Regions from separate parts of the Homo sapiens genome. Here all the other regions are linked to region 3. The links come from fine-mapping of genetic effects on gene expression. Tissue or cell type: blood mononuclear cells. Region 3 holds a variant in brackets; each other region holds the start of a gene. Each region is shown on its reference strand, or each on the opposite one.

Region 1 (6,609 bases), not on the chromosome of region 3:
CCAAAGGCTATTTTGAGAATAGTGAGGTCAGTTCCTCATGTTATCTTTTTTTTTTTTTTTTTTTTTTTTTGAGACAGGGTCTCGCTTTGTCACCCAGGCTGGAGGACAGTGGTACGATCTCGGCTCATTGCAACCTCCAACTTCTGGACACAAGCGATTCTCCCAACGCAGCCTCCTGAGTATCTGGGACCACAGGCACACGCCACCACGTTTGGCTAATTTTATTTTTTGGAGAGATGGGGTTTCGCCACATTGCCCAGGCTGGTTTCCAACTCCTGGACTCAAGCGATCCACCTGCCTCGGCCTCCCAAAGTGCTTGGATTACAGGCATGAGCCACCGCGCCCGGCCTGTTGTCCATATTTCTGTATGGGCATATCAAGGTCCTTTTATTTTGGGCCTTGAAAAGGATTGTTATGCCACTTATGAGTTTTGCCATCTCAGGAAATTCAGACACAAGAATTATGTCCTTTTTTTTAAATTTATTTATTTTTTGTTTGTTTTGTGTTTTTGAGATGGAATCTCCCTCTGTTGCCCAGGCTGAACTGCAGTGGCGTGATCTCGGCTCACAGCAACCTCCACCTCCCGAGTTCAAGCGATTCTCCTGCCTCAGCCACCAGAGTAGCTGGGACTACAGGCACATGCCACCACACCTGGCTAAATTTTTTGTATTTTTAGTAAAGACGGGGTTTTACCATGTTGGTCAGGCTGGTCATGAACTCCTGACAAATGAGCTGAGTTGGATGGTTACCAGACTATTGTAATTCAGTACATGGAGTGTTTTGAAAAGACATAGAGTATTCATTTCCACATAACTAGAACTACTCACTGTCCCTTAAATAAATAATTCCTCATGTAATTATAACTGGAAATTTAACTGGGAGTATCTTGGCTGCATATCTCCAGGAGAGGATGCCCTACCCAGCCAGCAAGAGTATTGATTAGTACATACCAGGCAGTCTCTGTGTGAGCCCTTCCTGATTTATTACTAGCTCTTAGTTTCCCAGCACAGAAAGAAGGAATGCACTATTTACACACTCAACAATATCCATCGGTTTAGCAGTTGGGCCCCTAAGTGTCCTAGAGGCACTGCTTCCCTCCAAAATAGTGTATCTTCCTTTCCAGAAGAAAGCTAATTTCTGAGAGGGGAAAAACTCTATTTTGTTTTGCTTACGGTGTTGATTCCAATTAAAAGTATTAAAGCATTATTTTAATTTGTAAAATATTAATCATAAATTATTTATCTTTCTAAATTCCATATATGTGGAAATAATGAAATCATGAACCCACACACAAGAAAATGAGGATGAGCAGATTGTGAATGTTGCAGTAGTGATCTTGATATCAAATTTCCAAAAAAGTGTATTAAGAATGTAACCAATTCTAATAACTGAAGATACATAAATAGCCAACTGAAACAAGATAGAGAATTAAAACTGCTTTTTAAAACTCAGTGTAAAAATACTATGATCTTTCCACTTACATCCTTCACAGGTTAAGCTAAGGAGAGACAGAGATGATAACACACATACACAAGCCAATTTGCCAGGGAAAATCTTGAATACTTATAAGAATGCTAGAGAGCTCACAGAAGAAGTTATAGAAATCTAGCATTCTGAATACAAGAATGGATGAGGTAAGGGCTTTCCTGGCCCACAAGAAGCTGATTTGAGCATATCTACCAAGCTGATGTATTTCTTTCATTTGAGATTTTCCATGTGGGTATGTCTCCTTACTATTATATACCCATGCATTCATTCATTTATCCAACAAATACTGATCAAAAGCTCCTACGTTACTGGAGATATGCGAGTAAACAAAAGTTCCTCCTCTCATGAGCCTGTATTTTAGAACACACAAGCAATACATCAGCAAACTCTGGTACAGCATATAGTGACAAATTCTAGGGTGAAAAAAATAGGTGGGGATTATACAGATTTTATTTAGTCATACAAAGCCTCATTGAGAAAGTAACATTTAAGCAAAGACTCAAGTATTTTATCCTGTGCTCAAAAAAACTACCACAGGCTTACCTACAAGGCAGTCTTATTTTGAATACTCCTGACAGTTCAGAGTTTTAGCCACTGTCAGCAGAAGTCAGAGAAAACACTTTCTCTCCCACACGTATTTTTACATGGGGCTTCAAAGGGAATGTTCTCTGGCGGGCTTTCTCCAGAAGACTTTTAAACCTCAAACCATCTGTCATTAACTACATTTAAGTGGTTTAAGCAGGCCCAAAATCCGGCTTGAAAAAATTCAAAGAAAACTTAACACTGCTTAGGAACGGGGGGCGGGGAGAGAACGTTTCACTTTAGCCAGCATGAGCTACATTAACCTGAATTTTTCCAACTTCAGTACAACCTTAGTTTTATTTCTGGCGTGTTGGCAAGAAATATACACACACCACAGTACAGGTTAGCAGAAAATTAGAAGCACCATCCGGTCAAAACCGGGCTGCGGAGATGGGAGAGCAATACACGAAGGAACTTTTGGCTACACTCAATGCTTACGGAAAAATGCCGGACATTATTAGATGTTAAGACTCCCAAAATTAGCATTCAAAAAGGGATAGGCTGAGTCTTACGAAACAGATTGTATAACGTCTGGAAATGGGCCCTATCTACTACAGGCAAAACAAGTACCAGGAAGAATTCCTGAGAGAAACAGATCTTTTCAGCGCGCATGTGGGTGGCTCTGAAAAGAGCCTTTGGGTATGTAATCAGTGAGTCCTTGAGACTCAAGCCCTCTCGCCGCGGATACGACGTGCGAGCTGGATGTCCTTGGGCATGATAGTCACCCGCTTGGCGTGGATGGCGCACAGGTTGGTGTCCTCAAAGAGCCCCACCAGGTAGGCCTCGCATGCCTCTTGCAGCGCCATCACCGCGGAGCTCTGGAAGCGCAAGTCGGTCTTGAAGTCCTGCGCGATCTCACGCACCAGACGCTGAAAAGGCAGCTTTCTGATCAGCAGCTCGGTGGACTTCTGGTAGCGGCGAATCTCGCGGAGAGCCACTGTACCAGGCCGATAGCGATGGGGCTTCTTGACACCGCCGGTGGCCGGAGCGCTCTTCCGAGCCGCCTTGGTGGCCAGCTGCTTGCGCGGAGCCTTGCCGCCGGTGGACTTGCGAGCAGTCTGCTTCGTACGCGCCATGCCTTCAGAGCTAGATTCACTTCAGGAGAAAGAGAAAGCTAGCCGCTTATTTATAGTGAGAGTCTGAAGCTGATTGGACAAAAGTATGCTGAAGGCCTACCCAACAGTAACCGGATTGGCGAAGGACTCAAATTTTTGTTGTTCACCTATTCCTCTGACAGACTTAGCAGTTCATGGTCTCCATATTTTATTTTCTATTTTCGCTATACAGTTGTTCACTATACTAGCGATTTCCAGTGGAAATGAGAGCAATATAAGTAATTTACACTTATCTAGGAGAACATTGTAACAAAACAAGGAAAAATTAATTTTTAATATTTTGCTTAATCCAATATAGCCAACATATTTCAATGTTATCGAAATTAAAATTGTTAGGTATTTTACACTTTTTGGCACTGACTTTTCCAAATGCAATGTGTATTTTATATAAAATTCATGCTATGGAATTTCCAATGATCACTATCCACAATTGGCTAGTGGCTGCAATACTGGACAGGACAGCCTTATACACCTGTCCCCTCAATTTTCTATCTTTTGACCACTTAAATTTAAAAAACTTCTATTTTTATAACCAAGAAAAGCTGGTTCGCATGTGAGAAATTCAAGGCCAAAAAATGTCAAAGAAACAACTTTATGTGAACTTTTCACTTTTAGATTAAAGTAATTCCATTGCAGCTTATTTTTCCAATACTCTAGAAATGTAATTCATTTTCTTTTAAGAATCTATTCCATTCGTACATCCAGATCTGATTCAGATTAAAAACATCAAGTCAGATATTTTAAAAGTGGAATTTACCATGCTGAAACAAATTAAGTCATCTCTGTACTAAGAAATCAATTTGTGTGGCTGGGGGTGGGAAAGCTCGGGAAATTTTAATTTCAATGAATTTTCAGAAAATGCTTCAAAGAGAACTACCTGGCACCATAAGTAACTGTTCTAATTAGTCTAATAATTATTCTCAACTCAATCATTAATGTTCAAATGCAATTAATTATACAGATTCGAGAGATATTTCTCAGAAATGAAGAATCCAAGTCGTTGATCTAGATTTGGATTGAACGTCGAATGCCCGGTTTGTTATTTACCAAGACCCAGAAAACATCTGGCCCCAAAGCAGACATGTTTGCTTCAACAGACTAAAAGTAAAACCCGACGGTGAACCATACAGAATTCAACATACTTGGATAATGCCAGCTTAGGAAAAACTAAATTTTCTTCCACTAAGCTTAAGATGAAGGCGTGTTTAATACTTTTAATGTTATCCAGGCTTTTTATAAAGCTAACGAGATTGTCACTACCTAACCAAGACACCGAAGACTGATCTACGTAACCTTTGGAGTGGTTTAGAAGTAGGCAAAGACGAGAAATTACATTAAACATAGTGCTCAGTTCTTCCACAAAATTGTAGGTGGCTCTGAAAAGAGCCTTTGGTTCCTTTGGGATTGAGTTGCTGCAAACTAATCCAGGCTTCTACTTGCCCTTCGCCTTGTGGTGGCTCTCGGTCTTCTTGGGCAGTAGCACGGCCTGGATGTTGGGCAGGACGCCACCCTGTGCGATGGTGACTTTGCCCAGAAGCTTGTTGAGCTCCTCATCGTTGCGGATGGCCAGCTGGAGGTGACGCGGGATGATGCGAGTCTTCTTGTTGTCGCGGGCCGCGTTGCCAGCCAGCTCCAGGATCTCGGCGGTCAGGTACTCCAGCACCGCCGCCAGGTACACCGGCGCTCCAGCACCGACCCGCTCCGCATAGTTGCCTTTGCGGAGCAGGCGATGCACTCGGCCTACGGGAAACTGAAGCCCGGCCCGAGAAGAGCGGGTCTTGGCCTTGGCGCGAGCTTTGCCTCCCTGCTTGCCACGCCCAGACATGGCAAAAGGCCTATTATCTATACGGTCAAGAAAGACTGAAGTGAAACTAGAAAAACGTACATTTTATAGCCTCTACTGGGCGCGAAAAGGAAGCTGTGCGATTGGCTTACGTTTTATTTTTATTTAGACCAATAGGACTCGATTATGCAGGATACCTATTTTGATTGGGCAAAACTGGCATCTGTCGTCATCCACGGATAATTACCAATCAGCAGAGACCTTCCCACTACCTCGGCCGCATAAACTATTATATAAAAAGAGGAGACCGACTTCTTGTTTTGGTTTTGCCACTATTGTTTCATTATGCCCGAGCTGGCCAAGTCTGCTCCCGCCCCGAAGAAGGGCTCCAAGAAGGCGGTGACCAAGGCCCAGAAGAAGGATGGCAAGAAGCGCAAGCGCAGCCGCAAGGAGAGCTACTCCGTGTACGTGTACAAGGTGCTGAAGCAGGTCCACCCCGACACCGGCATCTCTTCTAAGGCCATGGGAATCATGAACTCCTTCGTCAACGACATCTTCGAGCGCATCGCAAGCGAGGCTTCCCGCCTGGCGCACTACAACAAGCGCTCGACCATCACCTCCAGGGAGATCCAGACCGCCGTGCGCCTGCTGCTTCCGGGGGAGCTGGCCAAGCACGCGGTGTCGGAGGGCACCAAGGCCGTCACCAAGTACACCAGCTCCAAGTAAATTCTCAAGCTCTTGTCCAACCCAAAGGCTCTTTTCAGAGCCACTCACTATTATCTAAAGAAGAGCTGGTTCGCTCTTCCTATCACTGGGGGGCGAGGGGTCATAAATCATTTTGATCTATCCACTAAATTAATCTAGCTCTTTGAAAGCCATTTAAGGTGAAATGTACATGAGGTACGTGCATATAGCTACCAACACCATAGAGGGTCCGACCTTTGCGCTTGAGGGCATAAACTAAGTCCTTAGCAGGGACTGCTTTGCGCTTTGCTCGTTCCGTGTAAGTCAGTCAAGCGCATCCGGGATCACGTTATCCGGAAATTCCTTGAGCATCCACGGGTTTCTAAAAAGATGAGACCAGAATGCGTTTGACACCGCCAGGCCAGGCTCCAGGTGGTGGGTCTGGTGATGTCTGGATGTTGCACAGCAACTTGCGGTGGCGCCCCCTTTACCCAATCCTTTCCCTCACTTGCGCAACCAGACATGATTTTAAGGCACGACAAAAGACCCGAGGTAAAAACCAAAAACAGCACTAGGAAAACAAGGCTGGCGTTTTTAATCTTTCCGACTAAACTGGAAACTAGAGGGGTGGGCGCGGTGGCTCATGCCTGTAATCCCAGCACTTTGGGAGGTGGAGGCGGGCGGATCCCTTGAGCCCAGGAGTTCGCAACCAGCCTGGGCAACATAGCAAAACCCCGTCTCTGCAAAAAGCACAAAAATTAGCCAGGAGTGGTGGCGCGCCCCTGTTGTCCCAGCTACTTAGGGGGCTGATGTAGGAGGATGGCTTGAGCCTGGTAGGCGGAGTTTACAGTGAGCTGAGATCGCACCACTGCACTCCAGCCTGGGTGATAAAGCCAGGCCTTGTCTCAAAAAAAAAAGTGGGAGATCAGTAAAAGTTAACACCTTGCCTTCTCCTAA
Region 2 (4,133 bases), not on the chromosome of region 3:
GACCCAAGGCTCCACATGTCCCAGGGCAGAATGCTGGAGATTCTTATTTCTGTGTCATAGTCATCAGACTGCTCACTGCACGCTAACACTATCAGCTGATCTGTTTTAGTCCCAGTCACATAGGAAATGCAGCAATAACCACTGCAATATTCCTCTACATATCAACTGTAATCCCTCCTTCAAGATACCCTTGGCCGGGTGCGGTGGCTCACGCCTGTAATCCCAGCACTTTGGGAGGCCAAGGCAGGCTGATCACGGGGTCAAGAGATCGAGATCATCCTGGCCAACATGGGGAAATCCCGTCTCTACTAAAAATACAAAAATTAGTAGGGCGTGGTGGTGCGTGCCTGTAATCCCAGCTACTCGGGAGGCTGAGGCAGGAGAATCCCTTGAACCCGGGAAGCGGAGGTTGCAGTGAGCTGAAATCGCGCCACTGCACTCTAGCCTGGCGACAGCGAGAGTCCATCTCAAAACAAACAAACAAACAAAAAAAGATATCCTTGCCCTGTCCAGAATGAGTTATACGTCTATACATACACAGAAGAGTCTTGACGGGAATCACTAAAGTATTTTCGAATAGTTTATCTTTGAAGTGAATTTATCAACAAATCTTCCCTTTTTAAAATAAATCCTGGCCAGGTGCGGTGGCTCACGCCTGTATTCCCAGCACTTTGGGAGGCTGAGGTGGGCGGATCACTTGAGGCCAGGAGCTCCAGACCAGCCTGGCCAACATGGTGAAACCGCGTCTCTACTAAAAATACAAAAATTAGCCGGCCGTGGTGGCAGGCGCCTGTAATCCCAGCTACTCGGGAGGCTGAGCCAGAAGAATCGCTTAAACCCAGGAGGCAGAAGTTGCAGTGAGCCGAGAACCCACCACTGCACTCCAGCCTGGGCGACAGAGCAAGACTCCGTCTCAAAAATAAATAAATAAATAAATAAATAATAAAATAAAATAACAAATCCCTTCTGCAGGGTGTAGATTGTTTTACGAGTACTACAGTTTTTATTAAAAATACTTACATGCACTCTTGTGTCATCCTCTGAGGCAGAGGCGGCCCCAGCAGACCAGGAGCCAGGGTTTCTCTCCAGCCCAGGCAAAATCACCAAGGACTCAGAGAGGACCACGGGCAGCAACCCCGGGCTGTGCCCGCTCCATCCCTCCACCTGTGTCCCCAGTACCAAAGAGGCCGAATGCCAATTGCCCTGACGGCTGACGGTGTGCGCAGCAGCCAGAGACAAAGCCAAGGATCCCACCGGCCCAAGGGAGCCTTTTCATGGCTCCCCGAATACACTAGAGATTTTTCGGGTGCAGGGTCTGCCCTGGGAGCAGAGGCACCGCTGCCACCTGGGGACACTGGAGGAGGCAAAGCCCTCATCCTGCTCCAAAACAACCCCGCAGGAAGCCAAGTTGAAGGTAAAAAAAAGAAAGAAAGAAAGAAAAAAGGAAAAGAAAAAACCTTCTGGAGAAAGCGTAACAGGAGAAATTGGAAATGTGGGGAAACTGGCAAACCCGCGCGCGCGCACGCTCTCACCCAGGAAGCTACAGCGGCATCCCTCTGCCAAGGCGCGGGAACAACCCCCGGAAGCCCCACCTCGCCTTGGCTCCTGGGCCAGTCGTCCTTGGCCCGACCAGGACCACCCGCGACGCGCGCAGCCCCGGGTGAGCGCGGGGCTCAGAGATGCGCCCACCGCACCGTGCGCGCCGCGGCGGCCGGGAAGGCGCTCAGCCTGGCTGATGGCTTCGGCGTCTCGGAGGACCCGCTCCCAGGCACCAGGCACCTCTCAGCCCCGCCACCGCCGGGCCAGGAAGGTCCCCAGCTCCCGGCTCCGACCGCGCCAGCCAGGACACGCGCATTCCCAGCGCAGACGCGCGGGACCAGCCCTCCGCGTTTGCCGGCTCCAAGTCCGCAACTTGACCGGGGCGCAGATCCTGGGGCAGCTGCGACGCTGCCGAGCCGGAGCCTCACTCACCTCCTACGCCAACGCCCGCCAGCGCCCCCAGCGCCAGCACAGTCGCCCAGAGCGGCCGGGGCCGCGGCCGCGCTCGCATCTCGTCCGCCTCCCGCGGCGCTCCGCCCGCCCCACAGTGGGCGCCGCCGCCCGCGGCCGCTTTTCCCGCAGCGGGAGGGGAGGGGAGGGGACGCGGTGGGTGGGACGCAACGGGGCGGGCCGCGGACTCGCGCTTCCTCCCCTCCGGCTTCTCTAGATCCCCTCGCGCTTCTCTAGACCCTGCGCCTGAGAGGGAGCGGTGGGAAACTATTGCTCCTCTCTCGCCGCCTCCCTCGCCTCGCCCACGAGGACCCGCCTGCCAGCCGGGTCGTCAGCGCATCCTGGTCCCGGGGGTCCGCGACTGGGCACTTGGTGTGCTTAGAAAGGCCAGGAGCCTGTGGCCCCTCTCCGGACCCTTCCAGTCCCGCCTCCTGGGAGACCCTGTTTCGCTGGATTCTTGGGACACATTCACCCACTACCTCGAGTTTCATTCATTCACACTTTAATTCATTTGACTGGCAAACATCTGCTGAATGCCTTCTCTGAACCGGTTCAGTCCTTTATTATTCACTAATTTTTTTCTTGCCTTAGTTTGGTTTTCCGGTAGACTACCTACCTGTTGAGGGCAAGACCACATCCCAAGCTTGCGTAAGCAGTGATAGGTCCATGAAGAGCCTCGCCCTACAAACACTTGCTTGCACCTAGCCAGTGTCTGAAAACGTTTCAGAACACAGCATATTGCCTCCAAATTCACACTCACAGGCTTTGGGACTTTATCTATTTTCCTCAAAGGCCTCCTGCCTGACTCCCCCAAACTGTGGCCCCTTATCTCCCACCCCAATCTTTCTTTGAGTCCCTGGGTCTTCCCCAGACTTAAAACCTCTGGAAGCTCAGAGAGGCAAAATACTATGGCTATGAGCAAGAGGGCACCAGGAAGTAGCTGGTAGTGCAGCCTGCCTCAATGGGTAGTCCTGATGGTGATAAAAACAAGGCCAGAGGCATCAGTTCCCCTTTAGGGCTTTCAGAGTGGCCCTGGGCTTCCCTACGCAGCGTGCCCACCCTCTTCTGAGACACACAAGATGCCAGACAACTGGCCCTGACCCATCTCTCCAGCCCATCTCCCACCCTAGTCCAAGAAGATACTTGTCATTCCCCAATGCTCCATGCCTTCCTATCTGACTGATTTTCCTTCCTTTTTCCACTTGGAAAATTCCACTTATCTTTCAAAACATCTCAGATGCCATCTTTTTCCATGTAATTTTTTTCTGACAATCCTCCACCTCCTGCCCCACCCTCCCAAACACTAGGACCTTAATAGTAACACACATCAGCTGAAGCGTCACTAGCAATTTGCAAGGGGAAAAGCCAGCTCTGCAAAGGGTACTTGGGCCCTCTGACCTGGGTTTTCAGGCTGAAGCTCCATCTACCTCCCCTGGCTGCAGAGGGCCTCTAGGCCAGAAGCATTTTAACAGCAGTGTCAATGCCCTGGAGCAAAGTTCAGGTCACATGGCCTGGTTACATCTCTGCCTAAGTATTTAGTTATCTGCTCCATTCCCATATATATAAAACCAATCTCCAGCCACTTAGGTGTCTCCTTAGCCTATCCCTGCTGTCAGCAACCACTTGGGGTGGGCACTGGCCTCAGCAAGTATGCTAAGTCCACAACCCTAGCCCAAGCCCTAGCAAACATGACATAATTGTGCAAGTGAGTCCATCCTGCACTCCCAGCCCCAGGGAAGGCAAAGGAGCTAGTCCATTCACATTTAGTATAGTAATTGATGGTTGTGTTTACATTTACTATCTTGTTATTCGTTCTATCTTTTTGGCTGGTTTCTCTGTTTCTCTTTTTCTGCTTTCTTTTGGGATAATTTTTTTTTCTCTACTGGCTTCCTAGCTACACCTCGTTTGCATGTGTGTGTGTGTGTGTGTGTGTGTGTGTGTGTGTTTGCTCTAGGTATTACAATATTCCTCCTTAACTTATCATACAGTAGCCTATGTTGAATTAATATTGAACAATTCTATGTAAATTGTAAGAACCTGTAAACTAAAAATAACATTATAAGCCCCCCCACAACTGTCTGAACTAACCCTTCCTCTCAGCCAAGGGCATTCCAAAGTTAATCTGAAAAACTAGTTCAGACCAT
Region 3 (6,609 bases):
GCAGCAGGGGGTGCAGGGGGAGGTTTACCTGTGGTTATCCTGCTGAAAGAGGTATGCTCATTCTCACGAAAAAGAATTGATCTTGAGACTGAAAATGGCTTATGGCAGGGTGGGTGGCTGAGAACAAAAGCAATTGTTAGCATTTTTGAGATATTCATACATCTTGAGCAGCAGCTCAACTTCTATCAGTTTGATCCAGGTCTTTTTTCCTTTGAATTCAGTTCTATCAGCATCTATAGAGTGCTTGCTGTATGCAATACTAGTCATTTCAAGAGGAGGAATTTAGCTTCCTTTCCCATTATCTCCACCAGCCCCCTCACTCCAGAAGCACCTCAAATAAGCTTACCAGCTAAGCATGTACACTGTAGTCGCTGTGCAAACATAGCTTTGAGATGGCCACCCTGCCACCTCCCACATGACTCCCTGAAGTCCTTTTCTTCTTTGTCCTCTCCTGTCACATAAAATTCAGAATTTTCAGGAGAATTTCAGAATTTTCAGTAGAGTTTCAGAATTTTCAAGATAGAAGGGAACTGAGGGTCACCCAGTTCTGTTTGGTAACAAATGTGTTCCACTTCTTCCCCTAGCCAGAGTCCCAGGACAGAGGGTTAGCTCATTATGTCTTTGGCTCCTCTTTTATCCCTAACCTCTCGGGTATAAAATGTAAGTGATTAATGTTCCACAAGACTTGGACTGAAAAACTTTAATCCAGTACATTCTGTTTGATCAAAACAGGGTCCAGGAAAGTTAAATGACTTGTCCATAGCTGCCACAGTCTGTGGGTAAACAGGGACCAAAACCCAAGGCCACTTGATCCCCCATGCGTGGCCTTCCTATAAAGCCACTTGCCCATGGTGTGGACATGATTGCCCTGTGGGTACGGGGCATGCTGGGGCCAATGACACGCTATCTTTGGGGAAGGGTGTAGCTTTGTGGTTAAGACCATCAACGTTCTGGCAGACTAAGTAAGTTCTGGCATGGCTATTTAGTAGCTGTGTGATCTTGAGCAAGTTACTTATCTTCTCTGAGCCTCCATGCCCTCATTTATACAACAGGGCAGTACCCTCTTCAGCAGGTTGTGAGGATTCAGTAAGGTAATATATGTCACATGCTTGTCACAGGTCTGGCATAAGGCAAATGGCACCTAACATTATTTTCTAGCTTTTCAGCACTCAGGTGTGAACTTCCCAAGTCATAATGGTTCTTTCTGTTCCAGCTGAAGTTAACTCAAACCTGTCTTTATTACTCCATTTGTTGAAAGAGAATCTGATATGGAACTTTTTGCTTGGATGATGTGCCACACATGTAGTCTACTGTTAGAAATTGTTTAAAAATCTGAGTTTCAGAGCTGTCTTTCCAACTGGTTGGTTGGTTCCTGGGTTTTGAAGAGATTCGTTCCTCCTCCAGACTTATCTCCTCGCTCTGTTTGGGACCATAATAAACCTAGCTACTGTTTATGAAATTATTACTATGTGGTAGCCCCTTAACCAGGTTTCTCTCTAATCTTCACCTCCACCCTTTGAAGTAGGTGCTATTTGGTCCTGATTGCAGATGAGGAAACTGAAGTTCTGAGAGACTGAGTAACTTGCTTGATGGTTGATATTTTGGTGGTTCTCCCTCGTGGAAGGTGGAAGAGCACACTGTGCTCTGTAGTTTTCTGGATGTGAGATTATGTCTAGGGTGACTCTAGCACTTGGGGTTGACACCTGACAAGGACTTGAGTGAGCATCCAACCCCCTGATTGATCAGCAGGGGAAGCTGGTGAGCAAAAACGTCACAGGACTGGACCCAAGTCAGCACTGCTTCTCATTCAGTGTTCTTTCAGTCATATCATATAGGCTCAAATCCTTGACCCTTGCATCATAGGCTCTGGCCTCAGGACTCCCTGGTTTGTGACTGGCCTGTGAATTAACGTTCCGCTTCAGAATTGGAACTTGAGGTTCTAGAAGCAAGGTGCTTGCATTTGAACTCCAGCTCTGCTGCTTACTAGCTGTGTGACTTTGGGCAAGTTGCTTGAACTCTCTGTGCCTCAGTTTCTCCTACTATAGAAGTACTCATTTCATAGGATTGTTGTAAGGATTACTTGAGATACTTCATTAAAGTCAAAGCACAGTGCCTGGCAGAGAGCAAACACCTCTTCGGCTCTCAGCATCATTTACTGAGCTCTCATCACTTGCCAGGCATCTTTTGGCAATGGGGATGTAGCCTTGTACAAGCGATTCATGATTCTTTTGGAGCGTACAATCTAGTAGGGGAAACAGATGCTAGAGAATAATGAAGATTATGATTTATTAAGTAATTCTAGTGCTATTTGTTATTTATGGGGCACTATTTAGAAGTTGCTGCAAGGTATCTTTGTTTTTAGTTCTAATTCTTATAAATGGACAACATTAATGTAAGTAAGTATTTTGGGTAAGAAGTTTGGCCAGGGTTGCACAGAACCCTCAGCTTTGAGAAGCCTGTGGTTTAGCATCTCATGCCAGCAACCATCTAGATGTGTATTTTTGTTTTGTTTTTTAGAGACAGAGTCTTGCTCTGTCACTCAGGCTGGAGTGTAGTGGTACAATCATAGCTCACTGTAACCTCCAACTCCTGGGCTCAAGCCATCCTCTTGCCTCAGCTTCTAAAGTAGTTAGGACTATAGGAATGCACCATCATGCCCTCCTAAATTTTTACATTTTGTGTACAGACAGGATCTCACTATGTTGGTCAGCCTGGTCTTGAGTTTCTGGCCTCAAGTGATCCTCTTGCCTCAGCTTCCCAAAGTACTGGGATTATAGACATCAGCCACCAAGCCCAGTCAGTCATCTGTGTTATATCCAGAACAGAATTAGGTATGGCCCTACCACTTAGATGCAAGCAGCCCACCCTTGAAGGGCAGAAGGGAAGCTGTGACTGGGCAGAATCCACAAGGCAGCAAGACTTGGTCCACTGAAGGAACAGATAGCTCTCATAGTCATAACAGGCCTGTAGGAAGAAGACAGTGTAGGAACCAAATGCTGTTGTAAAGAT[A/G]ACACAGGCACTATGTAACCGAGTACCTATTTTTAAGTGACAGTGGTATATTTTAGGCCAGTTCTATCCCATTTGTAGTCTGTCTCCATTTTCCCTCAGTAATTCTTTTCTCATAGTTGATCTTTCCTCTGTTTCAACCTCTTGTTTGCTTTGCCATTTGATATTAAAAGAATCTATATGCATATGCATTTCTTGACAAATGAGTACATTGAGCTTAATTTTCTGATGAGCCTTCATAAAATATTACCATGCTGAACCAACCCAAAATGTGGGCTGCCTATACCAAACATGCTAATTTTAGACAGGGTGCTTTCATCAGTACATAAGATATGAATTTTTATTTGAAAGCTTTCCTGAAATTAAATAGCATAAAATCAAGATAATACTCCATATACACTTCAGTCTTTGCTGTTTAATAGAATCACAGAAGCATACACATTTATGTTTAAATCACCTTGTTATATGGTTCAAGAATCTATGTCTCAGAGAGATCACTTGACTTGCCCAAGACCACAGACTTAATGGTAGGGCCAGATTGTATACCATGTCTTCTTTTTTTTTTTTTTTTAATTTTTTTAGAGGTGGGGTCTCGCTCTGTTGCCCAAGCTGGAATGCAGTGGCACGATCATAGCTCACTGCAGCCTCAAACTCTTAGGCTCAAGCAATCACCCTGCCTCAGCCTCCTGAGTAGCTGTCACCATAGGCATATGCCACTGTGCCTGGCTAATTGTTATAATAATAATTGTTATTATTATTGTAGAGATGAGGTCTTACTTTGTGGCCCAGGCTAGTCTCAGACTCCTGGGCTCTAGTGATCCTCCCACCTTGGCCTCCCAAAGTGTTGGGATTATAGGTGTAAGCCACTGCACCTGGCCCATGTCTTCTAATTTAGGTCAGTTCACTCTTCACTCTGCTGCTTCTTTTATATATGTGCAACAGTCATATCCTTTTTTGAAATTATAAGATTAAATCAAAGAATTAATGTCTTTGGAAGCAAGGAGTGTTGGAAAAGTTCTCCAAATTCCACCTTTTTTCCTTAATTCATTTAAAAAAAAAGGGAGAAGGATGATTTATTTACCGGAAGGGTTAATAATAGCATGACGTGCTAACTGTATGCTTAGAAATCTGACATACATATTATCTTATTGGATTATTCATGTGTTTTTAACTCATTAAAACCTTGAAACTCTCATATCCCCATTTTATAGATGCTTAAACTGATGTTTGTCATCATTAAGTAAACTGTCCAAAGTCATATAGTTGGCAAGTGAAAACTTGGTATTTGAACCCAGGCTTCTCATTCTAAAGCAGAGGTGTCCAATCTTTTGGCTTCCGTGGGCCACAGTGGAAGAAGAATTGTCTTGGGCCACACATAAAATACACTAACACTAACAATAGCTGATGAGCTTAAAAAAAATCGCAAAAAAAAGTCTCATAACGTTTTACGAAAGTTTACAAATTTATGTTGGGCCACATTCAAAGCCATCCTGGGATGCATGCAGCCTGTGGGCCATGGGTTGGAAAAGCTTGTTCTAGAGCTTGTATTCTATGTTCTTCCAGAAAGAAGGACAGAGTGTTGAGTATTCCACAAAGAAAATTTTGCTGTAAAGGCAGAGTGGGAGGGAAATATCTTATTCTTTTTCAGTTTACTAGCTCTTCACTTTATAATTTAACCTTCCATATTAAAAGCTTCTCTAGGAAGTGAGAATTAATTTGGGGGAAGGAAGCCTCAATTATTCCTGCTTCCAGCTGGTACAGATGCTTGGCCACTTCAGGACAGGTAGGAGGGAGAATGTTGGCATCTGTCTACTGAGCTCAGAAACTGGAGAAGCATCTAAATTCAGGAATGATGCCAGGTGGGGTGGGGGTGTGGGAGGGAGGAAAAGGATGTGGTGTTTGGGGCCCATAACTCAGGAAACGTGATGGCACCTAATTTCAGAGTGGCATGAGGCAAGCATTTAGGAAAAGAATAGTGAACTATTGTTACAGGTTTTTTTTAAATGGGTGGGTTGTTTTTATAAAGTTTTATGAACAGGAAACTGAAGCAAAATGCTGATCCTTTTAGTTTTTGAGCTCTGCCAGCATCATTTTTATATTTATTTTTGAATTTTGATGACAGGCACTTCCTTTAACACTTCTGGGAGTAAAGTGTAACAAGATACCCCAAACTGCATTTCATAACAGCAGAATCCAAATGAAGAGTTGTAGTTTCAGATCTTTTCGATAACACGGTGAGACAGAACTGGATCCCTCCCCAGCCAGGGGAGAAAGAGAACTCTTTCAGTAACTGAGGCAGTCTGCAGAATTTTTTCCCTTTCAAAACATTCTAGAAAATTTGCCTAACATGTGGAAAACCTCTAACATGCATTAAAATGGGATAGACTGTGGCAAAGAAAATACAGATCAAATTCTCCTCCTCCCATGAATCATAAAAACCCAGCCTTCCCAGCTATTGTTTCTCCTGGAAGATGACTTCATCTTAAAGAAAGTGGTTCTATCTGTTGTGTGTTTTGGATGCACTAAACCAATGTTTCAGGCATCTGGCTGCCAACTTTGGAGATGTTAAAAGCCTGTTTTGTTCCTGCAGGGCACTCTTTCATTGCCTACCTTATAAAAGTTATGTCTTATTGCATTTTCCTGGCACCAGAGCAATCCTTGTACCTACCCATTGCATTTGGTTTTTCTGAGCCTGCAGGCAGCACTGGGTTATTAAAGTTCAAGGAGGAATCCACATGATGTTGGCTTTACAATTTTAATTCTCTCTTACCTTCTTTCCTCCCTACCTCCCACTCAATGACAGATGAGCTTTGTTCACCATGTATTGTCTCTAAACCAGAATGAGCTCTCAAAATTATCTCTTGTAAGGCTCTAGGAGGGGAGAACATGACTCCCCTTTGGTGGAGCAGCTAGCAGAGAAGTTTCCTTCTTCCTTTGGCTTCTTTGAATAAAAAGTTCTTGAGTCTATAATTTATCATCAGCCTTGAACTTCAGATAAGCACCATGTTTAATCTTGCAGAAACATCAGGCAAAATCTGCCCCCTCCCTTAAAAGTCAGCCCCTTGGGGCCCACCTCAAGAAAACAGAGTTTTGATACAAATGGCATTAGGTGTGAGCATGGCAAGTTAAGAGGAAAAAAACATTTTTGTAGAGTTTAACCTGGAATCAAAAACCTAGAGAAGGGAATGAAAGAAATAACCTTTAAAGGGAAGGAAAAGGGCAGATGAGCATGTTGCACAGTGTCTTTGAAAATAAGCTATTTGATGTCCCTTTGTCACTAGTTTCAGCCTTCCTGGCAAGTCCACCTTGTTCAGGAATTAGTGTGTAAACAGCTGGAAGGAACTGAAAGCTCTATCATATCTGAGAGGCCCCCACAGTCTAACACTGTAGGAGCCGTTTCTCAAAGTGGTTTGGACTCTTCAAGAAGCTAAACATTAAAATTAGGGGCCTATTTGAATTACCTTTCAAAATTTCAAACAGCCCACTATAGTATTCTGCATATTATTTTTTGGTCCCATCTCAGAAGTTTTAAATATGGTGTATTCCTCCTTGCAAAAATCTTCTCTGGATTTGCTTCCTCCGTGACGTGTTCTTTGATTAGCC
Region 4 (5,451 bases), not on the chromosome of region 3:
GTGTCTTGACTTTGTATTATTACATGTAAAAACTATTTGTAAGTTTAGTTTTGCAATACTAAACTTCTAGTATTCCAAACATACAGATGACTCTGAGCATTAAATGAATAAAATATTGACCCACCCAGATATTTTTTCTTTGTTTATTTTGATTTGACTATCACTTCTTTTGAAAACCCTCTTTAACAACACTCCTTTAAATTTGTTTTATTTTATTTCAACCACTCAAATTGCTCTAACTTTAAATTAAAATTAATTTGAAAAATAAGTTTTCTGATTCATCATATTCATGATGGCAACACAACTCAAAATAATCATGGTACTAGCAAAATTTGAGTTGTTGAGCACCTATTCTGTGAGGAGCATGCATCTAAGCACTTTTCATTCATTTTTATCTGAACGAGAACCCTGCAAAGTTTTATTTTTATTGACATTCCTTGTATTAAATCTGTAGTTTCCATATGAAGAAACTGAGGTTCACAGACATCAACTGAGTTGCTCAAAATCATGGAACTAGACCATACTGAAGCCAGGATTGCACCCCTGGTGTGCTTGTTTCGATCTTTGACAACTGTTACTTTTTATAATACTGCTATTCCAATTTTCACATCTGTTCAAGCCCCAATTTTATTTATTTGTTTATTTTTGTCTTTCATATTGTGAATATGGTTGGGAACACAATCAACATATCCTTGAATTAAACTAACAGCCACCGTGGTGCTAGTTTGCTTGGCAATGACTATTCTAAGTAAAACTACCTCTATAAGTGAGTAGAAAAGTGAATGATTATTTCAGTTAAAACAAAATTGCTGCATTTTATTTCTTCATTTTTCCCTATTAGATAAATTAACAATAACTTTATCTAACTGAAATGGTGAAATTATAAATATGATCCAATTTCATCTTGAATTTGAAATAATTTTCTGGGAGTGAGGTAAATTTCACTTGCAATCTTCTAGACCTGATAGACAGAGAAAGAACAAAAAGAAAAGAAGATTTCTTACTTTCCTCTAGTTGTTTCGAAATTTGATTTTTGGTAGTCAGTTCTTTGGCTGGAACTGCTGTCACCCCGGCTGAGGTATGTTTCCCGTGGGGCTCGATTTCCCACGCCTCCAGTGCCTCCAACGCCTCCAATGCCTCCAGTGCCTCCAACTGTGTTTAGAGAAGTTGCTTGTTCATTTGACTTTCTGGCAAAGCTCTGAAGAAATTTCAGTGTAGAATTGGAAAGGACCACTGATTCTGCTCCAGGATTGAACTTGATGCTAGCGTTGGTTGGGAGGGTAAGATTCTGTAACTTGACCACTCCTTCTGCTTTCTCTGTGGATGTGAGAGTTTGATTTCTCACACCCTCAGCAGGTGCACTTGTTTCTGAGGGAGGCAGTGTTGATTTAAGAAGACTGTCTTCAGAAGTTCTTGCCTCTGGAGTTGTAGCTATCTCCGCCGACATGACCCGAGTGGTTGGCAGTATTTGCAAACTTTGTATTTTATTTGGAGGAACTGAAGCAGAAGGCATAGTCTTCTGAGAGTTCCCATCCTCAGGTATAGTCCAAGAATGCTTACTGTTGTTAAGCCCAATGCCCCCACTCCATAAACTAGAAAGAAGGACAAATAATCTTGCCCCCTTCATCTCAGTAGTTTGAAGCAAGGTAGCTCATGTGAAATTTGGGGACAAAATCCTTATGGCCTTTTTGATAGCTGCTTCCACACTGAATCTGCTAAGACTGAGTTTTGCCAGTTTGAGATGTGTAGAGGAAACAGGTTTCTGTGTTTTGTAGCGTACTCAGGAAGTTCGGTTTCCTGTTTCTGTAGGGTTTTTGTGATCTGTGACCTCTAGTGGGATGGCTCTATGGAAGTGCTGAAGGGTCTCTGACAAAGCTAAGGGTAAATGGGAAAGCACAGGCAATTATTATCAGGAAAACCCATGAAAAAATATGAAGTAACTTTCTTTTCCTGAGCACACCCTGGTTTCACGTTTCACTGATTTCAAAGAGAAATTTCAGGTTCACGATAGAGAGTGCAAAATTTTGTTGATATAGGCTGAATACAGTTTTAACATTTTGTTCTACTACATAAAGACACTGAGAAAAGTTTTTATGATACTTATCTGCTGTGCTCTATCCAGAAAGCTGCATTTTGTTCAAGTGTATATCCACATGCATACACATAATCAAAAGCTTGTTTACAGTGTCTCTATCCTTTCATATAGTACATATACTCTGAATTATAAAACATCTATCTACATACATGTATATCTTTCTATTTTTATAAATACACTTCAGCTGTATCATTACTTAATCTCAATGATTATAAGTAATAACAGAAAAGGAAAGCATAAGTAATTGAATTAGACAGGTATACCAGGAAGTCACTTTAAATTTTGCTCCTGGAACTTCTACCAGAGATACCCACTAATGGAATAAATAATCAGAATTTTACTTCCTTTATTTTCCAATCACGATTGTCTGATGGTTGGGGGTAACCAATATTTTACTAGTAAGGGATAGATGAAGAAAAAATGGAGTCACATAAAAATAAATTAAAATGGGATCATATAGAATGCTTTTATACATTTACTGTAGGACAAAATTATGCCAGTTGTAGGTAGCAGAGAACCAGATTTATCTGAGTTTTCTATGGGTTTTTTTCTGGTAGAGATGTTTCATGAGATTTATCATTTAATTTCTCCAGCAAATCTCTGATCCTCAGATTTCAATTAACCTCTTATCTATAAAATTTCATATCAGTCTGTTTAAATAGATATACAAACTAAGTTATAATAGTTCATTCATTCATTCACTCATTCATTTATTTATGTATTCATGAATTCAGTAGTTACATAACCCCTCATTCTGTGCAAAGCACTCTCTTATGTGCTAGGATTATAAGGAAAACAAAAATATTCTTTGCTGTCAATTTGCTAAATGTCTGTTATGTTATTTGGAAGCTAAATCCATGTGTAACCCATTTTTCTGTCAACTTCTGTGCCAGGCATTATGCTCTTGCTAAATATTCAGTCATTGATTGTTAAACTATTATTAGATTTTATTTTTTGTTATTAGATTATTAAGTTCCGTCTTTCAAAATTAGAGAATTGGAAATCTAATGCCTGCTTGGTTATGTTTTATTGTAGATATTTTCTCTAGTCCTTATTCCTGGACACAGTGCACCAGGATTTGAAATAAGGCCTAATTCTTCCTTGAGCTACTAACTACTTGGGATTAATATTTTTTTCTTCCCTCAATCTTTGCCATTTATTTCCGTAAGTGTATTGTTGACCTACTAGAGAGTATTTATTTAAACTAAGACAATCATCAGCAACCCCAATCGACTCTGATATGGAGTAAAAAGCATCCGTTTCTCAGATATACCACAGAACAATCCACAAACCTTGCCTTAGTAAAGGAGCAAAAAGGTCCAGCAGAGACAATCCAGGAAACGATTAGTTACTAAAAAGAGCAAAAGAGCAATGAAACTGCACAACTGTCACAATACAAACATGGTTTTCAGTAGAAAGAAAAAGGCTTTACAGTGTCTTTATCTGGAAAACACAGAAGAAACTAGCTTTGGCTTATGGAAGAGCAGTAATTTCATAAAATTTAGGAAAAATGTTCCTATTTATATTCAATTTTACACCAATTTTCCTAGCTTTAGTAAAAATAGATGAATGGACTGTCTTGAAGATTTACAAAACTGCCAAAATAATGACATTCACTGATTTTTTGTTTTCTTCTACAGTTTGAAAGACTGTTCAAACCTGGTCTGGCAAGTGAACTTTAGTGGTAAAATGTCACCCATTGGATCTATAACTGATAACAAATAGTTATCCAATGATAATAAAAACTGAACAAAGCTAAGCAATTCATTTAACCACTTATAAGGTATTGACCAATAATGACTTTTGCTCACCCCTATCCTAGCTTACAAGGGACCCTGAAATCAAAAGGCTAAAGGTTCTGTATCTCACTATTGATCTACTAAGCCATCTTGCACTTTAACTCCCCAGAGAATCTCAAGCTCATTTAGTGATTTTGGGTATATGGATCAGCCCTTAATTAGAGGTATAAAATACTCCAGAAATTGTCAGAGACCTTGTCTCAAATTCTTCTTTCTGAGACTAATTAATACTCATTAAATAACAATTAAGAAAAATAATATTGCTGAGATGACTGGCTGAAGAGTACTCAGTTTACTCATTCTTCTAGATACTATTATACTAGATACTAGATACTAAAATACTATTGTTGGATTAAACTATATCATCAGTTTTGTATAACTGGACCCTGTCATTTTGCTATACCTCCCATTTCCCACTTGGTTGTTCATATTAAATTATGTTTTACCATCTTGCCATTTGTTCACCATGAATATTTTATAAGATAAAAATCATGAAATTTATTATATTATGAGTTATCAGGAGATTTTTATGTCATTTTTCATTGTATCATAAACATAGGATTCACTATATACTGCAACATGGGTTGTCTGTAGGTGATGAGATAATGGGTTTGGTTCTTTTCCACCTTATAATGCATATGAATTAATTTTCTAACCACAAGAAAAAAAAACAAAAAAAGATTATTAAGTTAAAAGAAAATATAAATGTGAGTTAAAAGAGAATCTTAGATTGAGGAGTTCACTGTAGATGGTGCTGTGTACTATTCAAAGCATTTTTATAGCTGCAAGACTTATTCTTTGTAAAATGTTGGGGGTATGGGCTAACTTCCACCAGATTAATAGGATTTTTCAGCAGCTGTTTTCTTCATTTTTCACATGAGAAATTCCTATTTTCTTAAAATAGTTTAAAACATCCAAAATATGATTTCATTATTACCTTCCTCCATAAGACATATCTGTCAAAAAATAATAGAAGAAAACAAATTTTAGAGCTTTTTCAATTTAATGGTGTTTGAAAAATATTGAAAACCTGTCAAATTTACATGTGGACAAAGGGGGTTATCAACATACAGCAAAAGGGCTGGAGAAGAAGAGAAACTGATTTCTGCATGATTTTGATGAGTCGATGTGCTAGGTAAGTTAAATTTGGCATATTATTTAATTCTTACAAACATGTTAGGTAAGTATTCTATTCTTGTTATACTCATGGGAAGTTAAACTTAAAGAAGTTAAATAACTTCCTAGGGTAACACATTAGTAATTGTTAGAACAGATATTTATGCCCAATCCTGATTCAATAGGTATTCGGTAAATATTTGTTGAATCAGTGAACGAATAGATGAAGCTATGACCATACTCCTATGTATAGTGATAACAAATGGGTTGAAGAGGGCTCTATTTCACATTATTATAGCCACACAAAAGAAAAAAAAAGTAATCTAAATAAATATAATGAACTTGTTCCGGGAACACACCTTCAAAAGTCTTCTGAAATACCCATTCAGTCAGATTGCCTCCTGTAAGTTACTCCTAAAGAAAATTCAGAAAGCCCATTGT
Region 5 (6,609 bases), not on the chromosome of region 3:
TAAATGAATTAACATACTGGAAGCTCATGAAATGTGCCTGGCACACAGTAGTGCCTAATAAACCATCTCTCTTATTCAGCCTGTTTTCTGATTTCAGAATCTACACTTGCTGAGCCAGGTTCTTTTCATTTCAAGGTGAGCAAAAGCATACAAGGAAGAGATGGAGGTAGGAAGAGATTAAGCCCTAGGCCAAGGTCACACACCGATTGGGAGCTGGAATCAAAGGCAATTTGGTCAGTGAATAAAAAGGATTCCAAGGCCCATAAGGCAATTCTAACCTTAGGATCGAAATTCTCGGACATACAGGAAATGCTGGGGGGGGAAAATCCGGTCTTCTCAGCCCAAGAGCCATGTGAAACCAGACCTTCAAATCTGATGATTCTCAGCCCAGCTGCCCATTAGAATCGTTGTAATTTAAAAATACCCTCGGAAAATTCTAATATGTGGCTATCAAAGGTGATCATTTGCTTTTATGCCACTTTGTTTTCACCCAAATGGGACATCCAACCCTTTTCCTTTGAGAGTAGTTGTAGGGAAAGGAGGGGGTGGAGGGAGGGAAGAGCGGAAAAGGCTGGATCCGCCCTGAGCCGGTGTCAGTATCTGGGAAGTGGGAGGCGCGTCAGCAGTAAACAGCTTCTGCTAGGATTATTATCTCCTGCCACACACTCGGATTTGAAGGCTCCAAACGAAACAATGCAAAACGCTTCAGTGGAGTTCCAGAAGCGTTAGACTAAACGACTGGGTCTGTTTGGCCAGTCTGAGCAGCTGGGCGCAGATGCATAGGCAAGACTTAGCCCGCCTAGACTTTTCTGCCCACTTAATTCCGATCAAAGCAGAAACCGGCCGGGCGCGGTGGCTCACGCCTGTAATCCCAGCACTTTGGTAGGCAGAGGCTGGCGGATCACCTGAGGTCAGGAGTTCGAGACCAGCCCGGCTAACCTGGTGAAACTCCGTTTCTACTGGTGGCGGGCGCTTGTAATCCCATCTACTAGGGAGGCTGAGGCCGGAGAGTCGTCTGAACCCGGGAGGCGGAGTTTGTATGCAGTGAGCCGAGATCGCGCCACTGCATTCCAGCTTGGGCAACAGGAGCAAAACTCCGTTTCAAAAAAGCAAGCAAACAAACAAAAAAATGCAGAAACCGAGATCCGGAAGAAAACCTCGGCGAGATTCACAGAATCCAGGAAAATAGGTCTCTAGAAATTTGTCCATGGTCCCAGATCTCCATTTCTTGTGGGTGGGGCAGCTGTTACCAGATCCCTAGAAGCAAAGGTTTTTTTGGGGGACCGTGTCTCACTGTTGCCCAGGCTGGAGGGCAGTGGCACGATCTCGGCTTACTACAACCTCCGCCTCCCAGGCTCAAGCGACTCTCCTGCGTCAGCTTCAAGAGTAGCTGGGATTACAAGGTATGTGCCACCACGCCCAACTTATTTTTTTATTTATTATTTTTATTTAGTAGAGAGGTGTTTCACCATGTTGGCCAGGTTAGTGTCGAAGTCGTGACCTCAGGTGATCAGCCCCCTCGGCCTCCCAAAGTGGTAGGATTAGAGGGGTGAGCAGAAAGCAAAGGTTTTTGAGTGGCCACAGGCCCCACTCTATTTCCTTTTCTGCCTGTAATGGCAACCTAGACGCTTGAGCTTCTTAAAATACAAGAGTAAGTTGCATGTCAGGCACCGTTCTACATTAGGGACATTAGTCTGTTTTACAGACACCTTTCAACTCCCTGGTTAACTTTTAGGTAATATACTCTGCACTTTAGCAGGAATGGGACCTATAACTCTCACAGAATTAGGAAAGTGAGGCTGCCTACAGCCTAAATTGAGAAAAAAATAGACGGGGGACTAGTCGGAGGACCAAACAAGGTTACCAACACGTTAGAGTTTTGCCTTCAATTTACATTTTTAAAGTAATCACAACGAAGTGTTTAGATCACGAGGCATCCCTGCATGTAAACTGTTAGGCACTAACTATGGTCGATCTTACAAAGCATTAACTAGAATATTTCTTTAGAGTATGATAGTACGTAACTGACCTACTATTACATACAAACAGACCAACCTTTAGTAACAGCGCTCCCCAAAAACCGAAAAGCAGTAATACGCTTTGCTCAAGGTTGGCATAAAATTAACTTACCTTAGTGCCTTTTTTCCTTCTACCTACAAGCAGTGAGGTTAGCTCTTCCTTTGAAACGGTAGGGGGGCTCTGAAAAGAGCCTTTGGGTTTGATAGCGTTTCCGGGAGCTCAGATACCTGTCAAATCACTTGCCCTTGGCCTTGTGGTGACTCTCGGTCTTCTTAGGCAGAAGCACGGCCTGGATGTTAGGAAGGACGCCGCCCTGAGCAATGGTCACCCGGCCTAGCAGTTTGTTGAGCTCCTCGTCGTTGCGGATGGCCAGCTGCAAGTGGCGCGGGATGATGCGAGTCTTCTTGTTGTCGCGAGCCGCGTTGCCGGCCAGCTCCAGGATCTCGGCGGTCAGGTACTCTAACACCGCCGCCAGGTACACCGGCGCGCCTGCCCCAACCCGCTCTGCGTAGTTGCCTTTACGGAGCAGGCGGTGCACTCGGCCCACCGGGAACTGGAGACCAGCGCGAGAAGAGCGGGATTTCGCTTTGGCGCGAGCTTTGCCTCCTTGCTTACCACGTCCAGACATTGCAATCAGACAAAAATCACCAAAACCAGCGGCCTAAGCTCACGAGAAAACAAACAAAATCAAGAAATATGTAAAACATGGCCGCTTTTATAGGTAGTTCCTGGGGAGTAAATCCGACTTTTTGATTGGTCGGTAGCAAATGCTAGTCAGATAGCCAATAGAAAAGCTGTACTTTCATACCTCATTTGCATAGCTCTGCCCACGGATGACAACTGTGCAGTTTGTCTTCCAATTAACTAAGAGGTACTCTCCATCCCTCATTAGCATAAAAGCCCTATAAGTAGCAGAAATCCGCTCTTTACTTTCGACACATTTCTGGTGTTTTAAGATGCCTGAGCCAGCCAAGTCTGCTCCCGCCCCGAAGAAGGGCTCCAAGAAGGCAGTGACCAAAGCGCAGAAGAAAGATGGCAAGAAGCGCAAGCGCAGCCGCAAGGAGAGTTACTCTGTGTACGTGTACAAGGTGCTGAAACAGGTCCATCCCGACACTGGCATCTCTTCCAAGGCCATGGGCATCATGAATTCTTTCGTTAACGACATATTTGAGCGCATCGCGGGCGAGGCTTCCCGCCTGGCGCATTACAACAAGCGCTCGACCATCACCTCCAGGGAGATCCAGACGGCCGTGCGCCTGCTGCTTCCCGGAGAGCTGGCCAAGCACGCCGTGTCGGAGGGCACCAAGGCCGTCACCAAGTACACCAGCTCCAAGTAAACATTCCAAGTAAGCGTCTTAACACCTAACCCCAAAGGCTCTTTTAAGAGCCACCCAGATACCCACTAAAAGAGCTGTGGCCAGACGCCAAATTTTATTTGGCGGCGGAGGGGTATTAGAATATAGGAACTGGAGAGGGGTGGGGACAAGTGTTGCAGCTTAGAGAGGGACAAAGGGTCCTGAACCCGAAAGAAGCCAGCCATTAAAAATGGCTTTGGGGTCAATTCGTTGTGCTTAAATTTAAAATGGAGACAAGCGGCCATTTTGCTAACTCGGCGTTCCCGGAAGAAACCGCAGGCTCGCTTAGGTTTCAGACCCAGCTGTCTGTCCCTGTCTACGTCGCCAGGATCAACGGTTGCCGTAATGTCATAATTTCGCCACCAGCTTCTAGCCAATAGGCTGTCCTGTCATTTTAAATATTAACCAATCGAGGGAAAGCTGTTTTGAGACTCTGATTTACATAGCGGACCGGAGTGGGAACCTGGGCAGTAACTGCCTAAGGAAGGACTCCCCCTCTGTTTTCGTGGCGCACACCTTCGTAGTATACTGAAGGGTGTGTCTCCTGGGTTTCCAACTGCCCCGGTAATAGTCTTTTAACCTAATATGCGTCAGTTTTGATAACAACACTAAGGCAGTACAGAACTAAAGATGTAAGCACTGCGCCAGATGTTGCTTCATACATCTTATTCTATTCAACTGGTTTATTCAAGATTCAAATCAAATCAAATTTTGCTTGAATCCCAGTGCTCAGTCAGCCATAAATGGTGTGTTGCCTGATTGAAACTTAAAATCTCCGTAGGGGGCTTGTAACATGCAGACAAGTTTGAAAGTTGCTTTAGGAGAAGCCAACTCTTAACTGCTGGGTAAATTGACAAGCCTTCGAACACTGAACTGAAGGCCAGTAAGGACTAGGCGCTGGGTGGGGGAGAATGAAGAGGAGACGTCATTAAACTTAGCACATACACTGTATCTCCTAGAGGACTCTCCCTTCCTAGACAACTGCAGGCCGCTTTGTGGCCTGGGAAATTCCACATTCCCTTAAGTATTTTACTCATGGTCTTTTCCAGGTAAAGATTTTAAGATGAAGGGTTAGACGTAGTCTACCTATCTTTTTATTCAAGTCTAGAACACGTTTTTAGCACCTAGAAGTTTGCTTTCTCCATTAAAAACCGGGAATATACAATAAATAAAATTAGTGTTAAAGCAGATTTTTACAAACTTAAATACCATGTAATTTAGGTTACAGTTATTTAACATAAGGACTGTGTGATCTTAAATCTGCAATTTCTTTCACACCTGGGAAATAAACTAAGGCCTGTCTTTGGTGCCAGACAAGGCCTTATACTTGAACACTGCTGTGCAATCACAGGCTGCCTTGCCTAGATAACTTATCTGAGAAATTCTGATGAGAAATGAAATTTCCAGAGTCCCTCACAAGTAAATTTTTTTTTCTTTTTTTTTTTTTTTTTTGAGACGAAGTTTCTCTCTTGTTTCCCAGGCTGGAGTGCAATGGCGCGATCTTGGCTCACAGCAACCTCCGCCTCCCGGGTTCAAGCCATTCTCCTGCCTCAGCCTCCGGAGTAGCTGGGATTACAGGCATGCGCCACGACACCCTGGCTAATTTTGTATTTTTAGTAGAGACGAGGTTTCTCCATGTCGGTCAGGCTGGTCTCGAACTCCGGACATCAGGTGATCTGCCCGCCTTGGCCTCCCAAAGTCCTGGATTACAGGCTTGAGCCACCGCGCCGGGCCTAAATGGTTTTTTTTTTTTCTATGCCTCTAATGGACCTGGTCACTTATTCCCATTCAGACTGACCGCTCTCCTACCTGCCAACTAACTAATCAGTGTAACCAAAATCTGCAAACAAAATTCAGTATTCTTTCCCCGCCTTTTCCCCTTTCTCTTACATAGATTATGTTTTTGCCTGTGTTAGATGAAATAATTCTATTGCTTGTTCTCTCTTCTGTACAAGTACCCAGTAAGCAAATTATTAACTTCTTGGTCATTTATTTCTGAATTTTCCACCAAGACAGTGTTTATGTGAGTCATACAATAAGAACCAACAGAAATGTGTGTCTTGGAAACAGGTTGTCTATCCCTGGACCCTTTGAGTTTTCTGTTCACTTTCCTTTGGCTTTTGCATGCTAAAAGTTTATCGTCCGCGTTTGTTTGTTTTGGTTATTCTAATTGGACTTGGCTGATTGGTTGCATATTGGTGGCAGTAGTAGAATTTGAATTCTGGTTTTCTGGTCACATCATTAAGTGATTAGTCAGTGGAGAGGACAGGAAATCTGGTTTATTTATTAACCTTTTTTTGGGGTGTTTTTGTTTGAAGATGTTGATATTCTCTGTGAGGACACAGGGTTAGAGTTGGTGTTTTTCTTTCTGACTTTACATGGGATTTGATGTTTTGTGCTTGTATGCCTCTTTCCACCTTCCAAAACTTGTCTTTTTTGAGTCCAAATAGTTGTCGATATCTGCAAAACCAGTATTCCTGTGTTAAGATGATATGAATATAAAATGGCTGCCCTGTTATAACTTTTGACTTTAAGAAAGTGTTAGGACTAACAGGAGACAAAAAGGAAATCAAGGAAACCGAATGTCTGGTCTCAATAACTGCTATGGCAGAGGCTCTACAGCTTATTATTAATTTTAGTAATTTCACATTATTGCCCCTTCACGTTCTTTAAGTAAGGTTAGAGGACAGAAGAAACATAATGTTGTTACAAATTGGACTATTGAGTCAGGGAAAAAAAAGAGTGCTTTCAATATCTGAATAAAACAAAGATTTAATATTTTCTAAACCTTAACGAGTTTATTGTAAGGGATGTGATGCTGGAAACTAGGAAACTAGAATTTTCTTCTAAACTGAGAATCAGAATTATTCATATTCTCAGCAGTGGTGCCACCTGAGGGACTTCTGATCTTAATTACATACTTTTATTTCTTTAACTGATCAACATGCTAAATAGATAACCTATGGCTCTGTTTTTACCCACTTTAAATTCTGTTCTATTAGCACGGTTAGCTTTCCTAATTGGCAATAAGATTGAGACTATCTTTTTTTTTTTTTTGAGACAGAATTTTGCTCTGTGGCCCAGGCTGGGGTGCAGTGGCACAATCTCGGCTCACTGCAACCTCTGCCTCCAGGGTTCTAGCAATTTTCCTGCCTCAGCCTCCCCAGTAGCTGGGATTACAGGTGCACCACCACGCCTGGCTAATTTGTGCATTTTTAGTAGAGATGGGGTTTCG

What was found.
Region 1: it holds the start of H3C10, and the variant in region 3 is fine-mapped to the expression of H3C10 in blood mononuclear cells (TOPMed, PIP above 0.99).
Region 2: ITGB3 starts here. The variant in region 3 is fine-mapped to the expression of ITGB3 in blood mononuclear cells (TOPMed, PIP above 0.99).
Region 4: it holds the start of MMRN1, and the variant in region 3 is fine-mapped to the expression of MMRN1 in blood mononuclear cells (TOPMed, PIP above 0.99).
Region 5: H2AC6 starts here. The variant in region 3 is fine-mapped to the expression of H2AC6 in blood mononuclear cells (TOPMed, PIP above 0.99).

What each region holds. Positions count from the first base shown.
Region 1 is chr6:27,806,611-27,813,219 of GRCh38, reverse strand. H3C10 (H3 clustered histone 10) reads right to left here and starts at 3,169. Exons shown (of 1, transcript NM_003536.3): 1 at 2,684-3,169. The coding sequence starts at 3,146. The coding sequence ends at 2,736. H2AC13 (H2A clustered histone 13) reads right to left here and starts at 5,047. Exons shown (of 1, transcript NM_003509.3): 1 at 4,553-5,047. The coding sequence starts at 5,010. The coding sequence ends at 4,618. It overlaps H2BC13 (H2B clustered histone 13), which reads left to right and starts at 5,291. Exons shown (of 1, transcript NM_003519.4): 1 at 5,291-5,741. The coding sequence starts at 5,314. The coding sequence ends at 5,694. It also overlaps the pseudogene H4C10P. RefSeq lists enhancers at 2,160-2,831, 2,926-3,215, 2,832-3,503, 4,187-4,785, 4,704-4,903 and 4 more.
Region 2 is chr17:47,251,779-47,255,911 of GRCh38, reverse strand. ITGB3 (integrin subunit beta 3) reads right to left here and starts at 2,085. Exons shown (of 15, transcript NM_000212.3): 1 at 1,972-2,085. The coding sequence starts at 2,050. RefSeq lists a silencer at 2,031-2,290.
Region 3 is chr3:56,812,122-56,818,730 of GRCh38, reverse strand. It overlaps a transcript of ARHGEF3 not described here. Among named protein-coding and RNA genes, the nearest start is that of ARHGEF3, 13 kb to the right of the region's middle. The variant A/G (reference allele first, on the strand shown) is at 3,010.
Region 4 is chr4:89,891,148-89,896,598 of GRCh38, reverse strand. MMRN1 (multimerin 1) reads right to left here and starts at 1,745. Exons shown (of 8, transcript NM_007351.3): 1 at 1,005-1,745. The coding sequence starts at 1,627.
Region 5 is chr6:26,120,271-26,126,879 of GRCh38, reverse strand. It overlaps H2AC6 (H2A clustered histone 6), which reads right to left and starts at 2,708. Exons shown (of 1, transcript NM_003512.4): 1 at 2,190-2,708. The coding sequence starts at 2,647. The coding sequence ends at 2,255. It overlaps H2BC4 (H2B clustered histone 4), which reads left to right and starts at 2,954. Exons shown (of 1, transcript NM_003526.3): 1 at 2,954-3,413. The coding sequence starts at 2,976. The coding sequence ends at 3,356. RefSeq lists enhancers at 1,502-1,591, 2,332-2,541, 2,632-2,771, 2,106-2,791, 1,599-2,798 and 5 more and a silencer at 2,805-3,170.